Regions from separate parts of the Homo sapiens genome. Here region 1 is linked to region 2. Evidence: fine-mapped expression QTL. A gene starts in region 2. The other region holds a variant in brackets. All regions are shown on one strand. Distances are between the middles of the regions. Region 1 overlaps TERF2 (telomeric repeat binding factor 2). Region 2 holds the start of TERF2 (telomeric repeat binding factor 2).

The links. PIP is the estimated chance that this variant, and not a neighbour inherited with it, causes the effect.
Region 1: its variant is fine-mapped to the expression of TERF2 in whole blood (INTERVAL, PIP 0.94).

What each region holds. Positions count from the first base shown.
Region 1 is chr16:69,360,241-69,365,240 of GRCh38, forward strand. TERF2 (telomeric repeat binding factor 2) reads right to left here. Exons shown (of 10, transcript NM_005652.5): 8 at 1,164-1,249. Among named protein-coding and RNA genes, the nearest start is that of TMED6, 11 kb to the left of the region's middle. The variant C/T (reference allele first, on the strand shown) is at 2,442.
Region 2 is chr16:69,383,139-69,388,575 of GRCh38, forward strand. TERF2 (telomeric repeat binding factor 2) reads right to left here and starts at 2,869. Exons shown (of 10, transcript NM_005652.5): 1 at 2,455-2,869; 2 at 2,253-2,348; 3 at 1,442-1,572. The coding sequence starts at 2,833. RefSeq lists a silencer at 2,485-2,864.

The sequences.
Region 1 (5,000 bases), 23 kb before region 2:
CGGGCGTGGTGCGACACACCTGCAATCCCAGCTACTAAGGAGGCTGAGTCATAAGAATCACTTGAACCTGGAAGGCGGAGGTTGCAGTGAGCCGAGATCGCACCATTGCACTCCAGCCTGGGCAACAAAGTAAGACTGCATCTCAAAAAAAAAAAAGAAAAAAAGAAAACAATTTTGGTAGGGTATGGTATGGTGGCTCACAAGTATAGTCCCAGCACTTTGAGAGGATGAGGCAGACAGATTGCTTGAGCCCAGGAGTTCGAGATCATACTGGCCAACATGGTGAAACCCTGGCTCTACTAAAAATACAAAAAAAGATTAGTTGGGCATGGTGGCAAGGGCCTGTAGTCCCCGATACTCCAGAGGCTAAGGTGGGAGAATTGCTTTAGCCCAGGATGTCACGGCTACAGTGAGCCAAGATCACACCACTGCATTCCACCTTGGATGAGAGTGAGACCCTGTCTCAAAAAAAAAAAAAAAAAAAAAGGATTTATATATAGAAACTGTTAAGATTTTTTTTTCTTTAAACAAGAAATGCAGGGAATGACCCCCTACTACCACATCTAATTGAAGGATTTTAGGAAGAACATCAACTATAATTAAATATCATAGGCGTTATTAAAACAAAACCAAGAACTCTCTTTAAACATAAGGCGTTACTCTGACAGTCTCCATTATTTAATGGGAGAGGACATCAGACTGACTCCTTGACCAGGGCACAGTGACTCACATCTGTAATCCCAGCACTCTGGGAGGCTGAGGTGGGAGGATCGCTTGAGCCCAAGAGTTTGAGACCAGCCTGAGCAACAAAGTGAGACCCCATCTCTACAAAAAGTGAAAAAAACAGCCAGGTGTGGTGGTGCACACCTGCAGTCCCAGCTACTCAGGAGGCTGAGGCAGGAGGATCACTTGAGCCCAGAAGGTTGAAGCTCAGTGAGCCATGTTTACACCACTGCATTCTGGCCTGGGTGACAGAGCAAGACCCTGTCTGAAAAAGGAAAAAAAAAAAAAAACTGATTCTTCATGAATTAAAATGAGATCGGGAACTTACTGAACTTTTTCTAGTTCGGAGACAAGCAGCTTCTGGAATATTAACATGACAGTAACACGCATCTGTACTTCAGCAAGCATCAAGAAGAGGCCAAGGAGAATCTTCTGCTTACCCTGAACTTGAAACAGTTCATCCTCTTCCACCCAAGTCTCCTTTTCTTCAACCCCATTAGAGCTGTTCCACTTGCCTTTGGGTACTCTGAGGGGAGATCAAGGAGAGCACAGGTATAAAACAAATTCACCCTGGATTGTCCCAGATTCTGGTCTTGGCTCACTCTTGGCCCTGTACTCCTTCCTGTCCCGTTGTGACCACAATCGAGGTTCGCCTGCATGCACCTCCCAAAGCCACTGTCCTTTCTCCTGGCTGGCCAGGCATCTCCACGTAACACCCCTCAGGCTGCAGGACACCCTTCAAATTCAGCACTGAGTACATCAAGCACATCACCACCCCTCTAAAGAATCTGTTCATTTTCCTGTTTTGCTTGTTTGGTTTTGACTCTTTTAAAGGTCTCAGTATTTTTCTGATTTAGAACCTGCAAACCCCTCCCTCTCTTCCTTGGACATGCCTTCTTCCTATATCTGGACTGATTTTTCCGTTTCCATTCCCCCTTGTTCAAGCTCACGGCGCCTTTCATCAGTATTCCACTAGCCTCTTAACTAGAGTCTCTGCCGCTAGGCTCTTCCCCTTCCAAAGCCAAAGATGATTTTAGGACAATCACCCTAAAATTACCACATGCCTCTTCTATTCCCTAATGGCTTCTCTCTGCCTGAACAGTGGCATCTATATGCCTGTATGGGGGAGTCCACACCATCCAGTCTGGCCCGTCAGTTTCTAACCAACCGCCCCACGATGCCCACACCTGTGCAAACAGCACAGCCACACTGTTCTGCTCTTTCTTCCTTCCATAAGCTCTGTACTTTCCTGCCTCTCTGTAGCCCCTCTGCTTGGGAGTCCCTTCCCTGCTAAGTGACATCTCATCCATCTTTCAAGGCCATGGTTCTCAGTGAAGCCTCCTCTAACTACCAACCACAACACACACAGAAAGCCTTTCTCCTCCTGCCTGCAGTGCTGTTTCCACCATACCAAGTGCCACTTTGCAGTGTGCCCCTAACCAGGACCGCCTCGAAGGCGGGGGCCACATCTTCCTTTGTCCATCCCAAACACATAGCATACCCAGCACAGTAACACAGACCCCAATGTGAGCTGGAGACATATTAGCTGAACTAACATTGTGATTGTCAGAGAGCCACAAGGGAGTTATACCATCAAAGATTAGAGTAAAAAGCAAACAAGAATCCTTCTTGTGAACATGAAACGTTAAATGCTTGGGTGTGGCTAAAAAAAGTACAAAAGCTGAAAATAACCCCAAACTCAAATTATTCAATGAAAA[C/T]TATAGCCCATTTCTTCTAATCAACTTTGCATTTACCTGATTAATAACTGCCCTGGGAACAGAGCAAAGCACAGATCTGACCTCAGAATTATAACATCTTTTACAAACATGGAAAGTGTCTGAATTCAGAGTCTTGAGGAATTTATATAAATCAAATGACCCGCAAAAGTTAACCAAGAATAGAGACAAATTTCTGTATTCTTCACCCGCCATGAAGAAAAAACTTATTTTTAATGCTGTTTGGGTATTTTGCAAATGAATAATAAAAGCAAGTTGATGAATAAGTACATAGGCTTGAAAAAATTCCTTGAGTTCCATAAGTTTTCTATGAAATTACTTAACTAAGTGGCTGAGACAAATGGTAGACCTAACTTTCTCTTGTTTTTACATTGGATCTTATCCCCAAATGTTACTTGAGAATAATTTACTTGAGACAAAGTGAAAACATTTTACAGGAGGTTTTTCCTTCTCAGGATATTCTTGTGTTAATGACTATTCATAAATAAAAATCAGATGGGGTTATAGTTTGTTTTCTATGTGCTTATCCCAGTGCTGGAATAAAACCAGTTGGAACCTCAGTCCCCAGCTGGTCCGTCATGTTCCCTGAGTGGCTGTCCTCCCTCCCTGCACAGTCTTCACAGGTCACCTTCTCCCTGTCCTCTGTTGAACTCTCAGCACTATTACCTGTACAAATACATGCTTTGGTGGTGATTTCGCAAGACCTCTGACTTTCAGGTGATGTGTTCACTGCCTCTCCTGACTTCCCAAGTGGATGGGGCTGAGATCTGGCCGCTCCTCCTAACTGTAATGGGCTGAGTGGTCCTGGCCAAGTCAGGCCACTTCCTGGTCCTTGTGCTCCTGACTGGCAGTTTGAACATGAAGAGCAATGGTCTAGCAAGTGTTGGCAAGCTACAGTCTGGCTGCTGCGGCTTGTGTACCATGAAGCTTGGGGTGAGAATGGCAAGCCCGTTTTTTAAGGGTTGTAACAAAAAAACAAAAAAAGACAGTTGGGAGCAGTGGCTCACGTCTGTAATCCCAGCAGTTTGAGAGGCCCAGGCAGGTGGATCGCTTATTAAGTCCAGGAGTTCGAGACCAGCCTACATGGTCAAACCCCATCTGTACAAAATATACAAAAATTAGCCAGGTGCGGTGGCACGCACCTGTGGTCCCAGTTACTGGGATGGGGGCGGGGATGGTGGCTGAGGTAGGAGAATCGCTTGAACCTGGGAGGCAGAGGTTGCAGTGAGCCGAGATTGTGCCACTGTACTCCAGCCCAGGTGACAGAGCGAGACCCTGTCTCAAGAAAAAAAGAAAAAGAAAAAACAAGAAAAGAATATGGAACAGACAGACAACTCATGTGGCCCAAAATGCCTAAAATGTTACCCTCTGCTGGCTTTTTACAGGTGTTTTGGGTGTCACTCCTTAACATGCAAGAACAAAGAATCCTTATTTTACTTGGTGAATAAATACCTAGTAAACACATGCTATGTGCAAGGTGCCGTGGGAGATACAAGATTGGGGCATGGTGGCCCTGTCCAAGTGACACTGCCAACCCTGCCTTCCCTCCTGATCCCACTGCCCCTCCCTGCTCCCTGGCAGCGGTCTCCAGTCTCCAGCCTCCCTCCCTCCCTTCCCTGAGTGGGGTCTCATCAGGCCTTCCAATTTGTTGTATTAGAATTATCTGGGGCATGGTTTAAAAAGCAGATTAAAGGGCATTCTCCTGACTCTTCTAATTCAGTAGCCAGGAGCCTGGGAATATGTATTTTTTGAGCATTCCACAGGTCATTGTGTCATGAAGCCCAGCTTGAGAGCCTCTGCCTGACACACTAGACTACAGAAATCCCAGGCCTGGCCCATCTAGCATGCAGACTCTCCTACCTTCACTCTTTCCTATGCACCGTATTCTCCTACCATAGGCTCCATGACACTCTGAGGGGCACACCAGGCTTTCTCATGCCTGTATGTAAGGAGCTCCCACTGCGTAGAGTCCCCCAGCCCCCAACACACTCGACGACCTTCTGCTCATCCTTCCCAGGCCAGCTCAATGTTTGTTCCTCTATAAAATCTGAGCCACCTAAAACCTTGCTGAATAGGCTCAGCTTTTCTTCCCATAAGTGGCCAGGGCACCTCACACATACTTCTTTAGAGCAGGGACACTGACCCTTTTTTTCTGTAAAGGGCCAGATAGTATTTTCACTTTGCAAGCCTGTCTCTGCTGTGGCTACTCAACAAACTACCAATGAACAGAAAGCAGCCCTAGATAATACATTGATGATGGGTGTGACTGTGTTCCAATAAAACTTTATTTACAAAAACAGGCAGTAGGCTGATTTGGCCCCAGGGCCACAGCTTGCCAACCCCTGCTGCTTTAGGGGATTCATTAGACTTCATATCCTTGACATATGAGAGAGGGTGTATGTCTGAAACCTTCACAAATCCTCCCATTTACAAAATTACTGTAATCTCGCACTCTCCTGTTTCCTCATCTGTTCCCGGGAGCAATACCTATAGTGCACAGGATTGCTGTGAGAAGCCAATGAGATCCTGTATCAAATGAGA
Region 2 (5,437 bases):
ATAGCCCTTGTGTTCTAAAGGAGTTGCTACAGGTTGAGCATCCTAAATCTGAAAATCCGAAATCTGAAATGCTCCAATGAGCATTTCCTTTGAGTGCCATGTTGGCACTCAAAAAGTTTCAGATTTGAGGGCATTTGGGATTTCAGATTTTTGGATTTGGGATGCTCAAACTAAATTTAATGCAAATATTCCAAAATCTGAAATCCAAAATGCTTCTGTTCCCAAGTATTTTGGATAAGGGATACTCAATGTGTACTTAATAGAAGTTAAATGAATTATTCTAAACTGGTACCCATTCAAAAGATCCTTAACAGTTCTGAAAGTAGGCATGAATTTCTCCTCCCTTGATAATGTCTATTCTGGCATATGCCTCCCCTCAACCTAAACCTGATTTTCCTATACTAAAAATGTACTCTTGAAATTATTCTTCCTTGGAAATGACTAATATTTAAGCATTTCTTTACCAGACCAAAAGTAGTATCTGCCCAAGGTCCTTAATTAAATAAATAAAATATGTGCACCTCATGCACACTAGTTGTTTTTTAATAGGGTACCCAAGTACAATGTACACAGCCAAGAGACAGGTTTTCCTTGTGAAGCAAGGTTTTTCTTTCTACCCCACCCCCATCTTTGGGATCCCATCCTTTTAGGGGTGCTCTTTTCTTAACCATTTCCCTATTTTCTACCACCAGGGCAATGCTTAGCTGATGTTTTCCATCTTCACCTCTGCATCTGCTTCCACACCCCCCAGCCTTGGTTTTGGGGGAAGAAAAATCTTTTTCTAACTGGTTCCCACAGCCACTTCTATGTTTTAAATTAAAATAATTTCTACTGTTTGAAGCTACCTGAGCCACAACACAGTGACAATCCCAAATTCCTAGACACTCCATTAGCTTTTTTCTTGAATTCAAGAACACTGCCTGTGCCGGATTTCTATCATTCTTCTACCATTACTATTTTGCTAGCTGGCTCATTATCCCAGCACCTCTGATTCTAATCTATCTGTTCAAAAGGGATATTCTCTAAGCCCCTCTTTCTGCAGACAGAAAGAACTCAAAGTCAGTACCACATTTTCCAAGGCCCCAGTTTATCTCCTTGGTTTATTATAAACAAGGGTGACCAAACCCTAGGCCAGAGTTACTTAAGGCCCTTGTAGAGTGCTCCCGAATGGTGCAGTAACCTCCAAAATGTCAGAGCTTCAATGCCAAAGCCACAAGGAAGACCACCCAAATCACAAAAACTGAGCAACTGCCATTACTTCCCAAGCCTGGGTGGGAAAGGAGACACCTGAAGAAATAACGTCTGTGTGTGTGCTTTCTTGCTTGCTCAATCTCTCCCCATTGCTGTTTTCCTCTGCCCCACACAGTAAAGAGTAAGTGCTGTATCCTCAAAGACCCTTGATTTTTGGTCAAAGAAAAAAGATATAAAAATAGAGCCTTACAGCTTCCTTGACCAGTTTTCTACTGGATTCGACCACTGCTTCTGTCAGTGTAAATTCCGTTTTAATCATCTCCAGCACATTGATAGCTGATTCCAGTGGTGTGAGCTCAGCCTCCATATCAAAGGAACAGTCTAGGACAAAGCACAGTTTTCATTTTTAAGCTCTTTTCTAAGGGTAAAAAAGTTATGTCCAAAAATTATATATATATATTTATGGAAATGGAGCATGCAAATATGGTAAGATTTGCATTTAATTTTTTGACATATTTGCTACAGGTTGACATACACGATAAGGGTCCAAATTCAAATCAATGAATTTAACGTGACCATTTTTTAACACCTGTCAAGACAGGCAAAAAAATTATTTTTAAATACCTGCATTTGCCTCTCAAATTCAGAATATACCCATCCTCCTCAGATACGAGTGGCAAGAAACTGACAACAGCTAAATAGCTTTCAAGTTAAATTCAGAGGGGAAAAATGTCAGAGTACTTCCACTCTGAAAAACTCTCTACCATGGGGGAAAAAAGATGTCCATATGAACATAACTCACTTTAGACAGGAGCAAAGTTGGGGTGAGCAATTAACAGGTGGGAGAAGATTTAAAAAAAACACAGAAAAGCAGCCAAGACAACCTTAACCGGAGAAAACTAGAGCCAGTCGAGCCAGAAAACAGACCCATCGTAGAATGAAAAAGACCACTCTGATGGAAACTATCGCACTTTAACCTGGAATCCTTCAGTTCTAGATATAAGTTTTAAAACAAAACCCTACGCAAGTAAGCCCAGAGAAGAACACAAAAATAGCCATACCTAAATTTTCCCCTTCTTCAATCCGCGACAGACACTGCATAACCCGCAGCAATCGGGACACGGTGTGCTCCTTCCCCAAGGGCCTGACAAGCAAAGCTGGGAGAGAAGACATCGTTGGCTGGGCGACCCCCAGTCCCGACTCCCGGTCCCCCGGACCCCCTTCCCCGGCGCTCCAACCCCCCTCCCCCGGCCCGGCCCTCACCCTGCATGATGTCCCGGATCTGTCTGAAGTCCCCGTACCGGCTACCCCGAAAGGCCCGCAGCGCCTCGTGGAAGTAGAACTTGAGCACCCAGCGATTGACTGCCTCTTCCAGCCGTGCCTCCCCCGCGCCGCGCTCCGCCGGGCCCCCCAGCCCCGGCTCGTGGCGCCCCCGCCGGGCCCGCCCGCTACTGCGGGACGCCCGCCTGCCAGCTGCCCGCCCGCTGCCGTCGCTACTCCCGCCTCCTCCCGCCATCGTGTCCGATCGCCGCGCGCCCTCCCCGCCCTCCCGGCCGGGCCGCTTCCTCGGCTGTGACGCCGCTGGGTCACGCACGACGCCCGGGCCGGAAGCGGGGCCCGCCGTCCCGGCTCCCGCGGCCATGATAGAAACAGCGTTCCGAGCCGCCCGCGGGCTTCTGGGAGGGAAAGGACCGGAGGGCCCGGCCCCCTTCTCAGACGCCGTAGTTCCCGATGTGCCGGCCGCAATGCCTCCTGGGGCTTGAAGTCCACACCGCCCAGGCCGGTGAACCCGGCGGGTTTTGCAGTCAACTTCGCTCCGAATTTACAGAAAACAGCTACTATGCTAGGGACGCGGAACAGTGTATTAGAGACTGAAAAACAGGCCGGGATCGGTGGCTCTACGCCTGTAATCCCAGCACTTTGGGAGGCTGAGGCGGGTGGATCACCTGAGGTCGGGAGTTCGAGACCAGCCTGACCAACATGGAGAAACCCCATCTCTACTAAAAATACAAAATTAGCCAGACGTGGTGGCGCATGCCTGTAATCCTAGCTACTCAGGAGGCTGAGGCAGGAGACTCGCTTGAACCCGCGAGGCGGAGGTTGCGGTGAGCCGAGATCGCGCCATTGCACTCCAGTCTGGGCAACAAGAGCGAAACTCCGTCTCAAAAAAAAGAAAAGAAAAAAAAGAAAACCAAATATGTGCACCTTATTAAACACTTTGAAAATTGTGGAAGAGAGCATACACAGAGGAAAGTCTTTAAACAAATTTGTATTTTAACAAATACTGTAATTATAAAGCAAAGACCAGTGTGATACCAATAAATAGAATGCACCTGGCAACCCAGCCGCTAGACATATACTCTTTGTAATCACAAAAATAACACATTTTGTTGTAGAACAATTAGAAAAATAAGCAAAAGGACCACCCATAGTCCCATAGAGGGTCTGAGTCACTTTCAGATATCTCTGATACTCTTGGAATTCACCAACTGGCACTTGACCAAATGGAGAACCTCCAGCTCAGACCTTAGTTCAGGATGGTGGTTGTGGGTGCCTCTTCCTGAGAGGCCCAGTAACTGGTCTAGCTTCAAAGATTGTCCTACCAGCCCCACTAGTCTGGAACCTGCAAAGATCCAGTTTGGGGCCACTCAAAGACAACTCAGAAGTGCAGGTGGCCATGTCCTTGAGGATGTGAATCCCATGCTGGACCTGTGAATTAATATCAGGACCTTAATATGTATAGTATCCTGGAAAGCCAAAAGTTCTATGAGGTACACGTTCCGGGATGAGAGAAGAGGCCTCTAGGTCTGACTGATCTTTGGTGATCATAGCTGCTTTTCTTTTTTTTCTTTGTTTTTCTTGAGATGGAATCTCGTTCTGTCGCCCAAGCTGGAGTGCAGTGGCACGATCTCGGCTCACTGCAAGCTCCGCCTCTGGGTTCATGCCATTCTCCTGCCTCAGCCTCCCGAGTGGCTGGGACTACAGGCGCCCACTACCATGCCCAGCTAATTTTTTGTATTTTTAGTAGAGACGGGGTTTCACTGTGTTAGCCAGGATGGTCTCCATCTCCTGACCTCGTGATCCGCCCGCCTCGGTCTCCCAAAGTGCTGGGATTACAGGCGTGAGCCACTGCGCCCGGCCCATGGCTGCTTTTCCATTCCAGCCTGCTTGCCTTAACCAGGAACCAAATCACTTGCCTTTATTTTAGTTTTTTTGAGAAAGTTTCACTCTGTAATGCAGGTTGGAGTGCAGTGGCACAATCGTGCTCACTGCAGCCTTGAACTCCTGGGCTCAAGTGATCCTCCTGCCTCAACCTCCCAAGTAGCTAAGACTACCAGCGTGTGCCACCATGCCTGGGTAATTTGAAATTTTTTTTCGTAGAATTAGGGGTCTTGCCGTGTTGCCCAGGCTGGTCTCGAACTCCTGGCCTCAAGCACTCCTCCCACCCTGGTCTCCTAAAGTGCTGGGGATTTCAGGGTTGAGCTACTATGCCTGGTGCCAAATCACTTGCCTTTCAATTCTAACTTTTTTTTTTTTTTTCTGAGACAGAGTCTTGTTCTGTTGCCCAGGCTGGAGTGCAGTGGCACGATCTTGGCTCACTGCAACCTCCGCCTCCCGGGTTCAAGTGATTCTCCTGCCTCAGCCTCCCGAGTAGCTGGGATTACAGGCGTGTGCCACCACGCCTGGCTAATTTTTGTATTTTTAGTAGAGACGGGGTTTCACCATGTTGGCCACGCTGTCTCGAACTCCTGGCCTCAAGTGATCCACCCATTGTGGCCTCCCAAAGTGCTGAGATTATAGGCGTGAGCCACTGCGCCTGGCCAGTGCTAACTCCTCTACTTGCTAGCTGTGTAACCTTGAACAAATCCCTTAACTGTCTCTGTGCCTCTGTTTCCACATCTGTCAAGCACAAATAATGAAGGTACCTCTTGGAAATTATACGAAAAGTCAATGAGTTGCTATTTCTAATGCCTTTAGCGAAGGGCTCAGCTTGTGGTAAGGGCTCAGTAAGTGTAAACTGTTTTTTGTTTGTTTGTTTGTTTTTTGAGACAGAGTTTTGCTCTTGTCGCCCAGGCTTGAGTGTAATGGCGCAATCTCGGCTCACTGCAACCTCCATCTCCCAGGTTCAATTGATTCTCCTGCCTCAGCCTCCCGAGTAGCTGGGATTACAGGAAAGCAGGAAGCACTTAAGGTTTTCAAAGAAGTTCCCTTAAAGAGACAGTTGGGTATTTGTGGTAGATAAAGA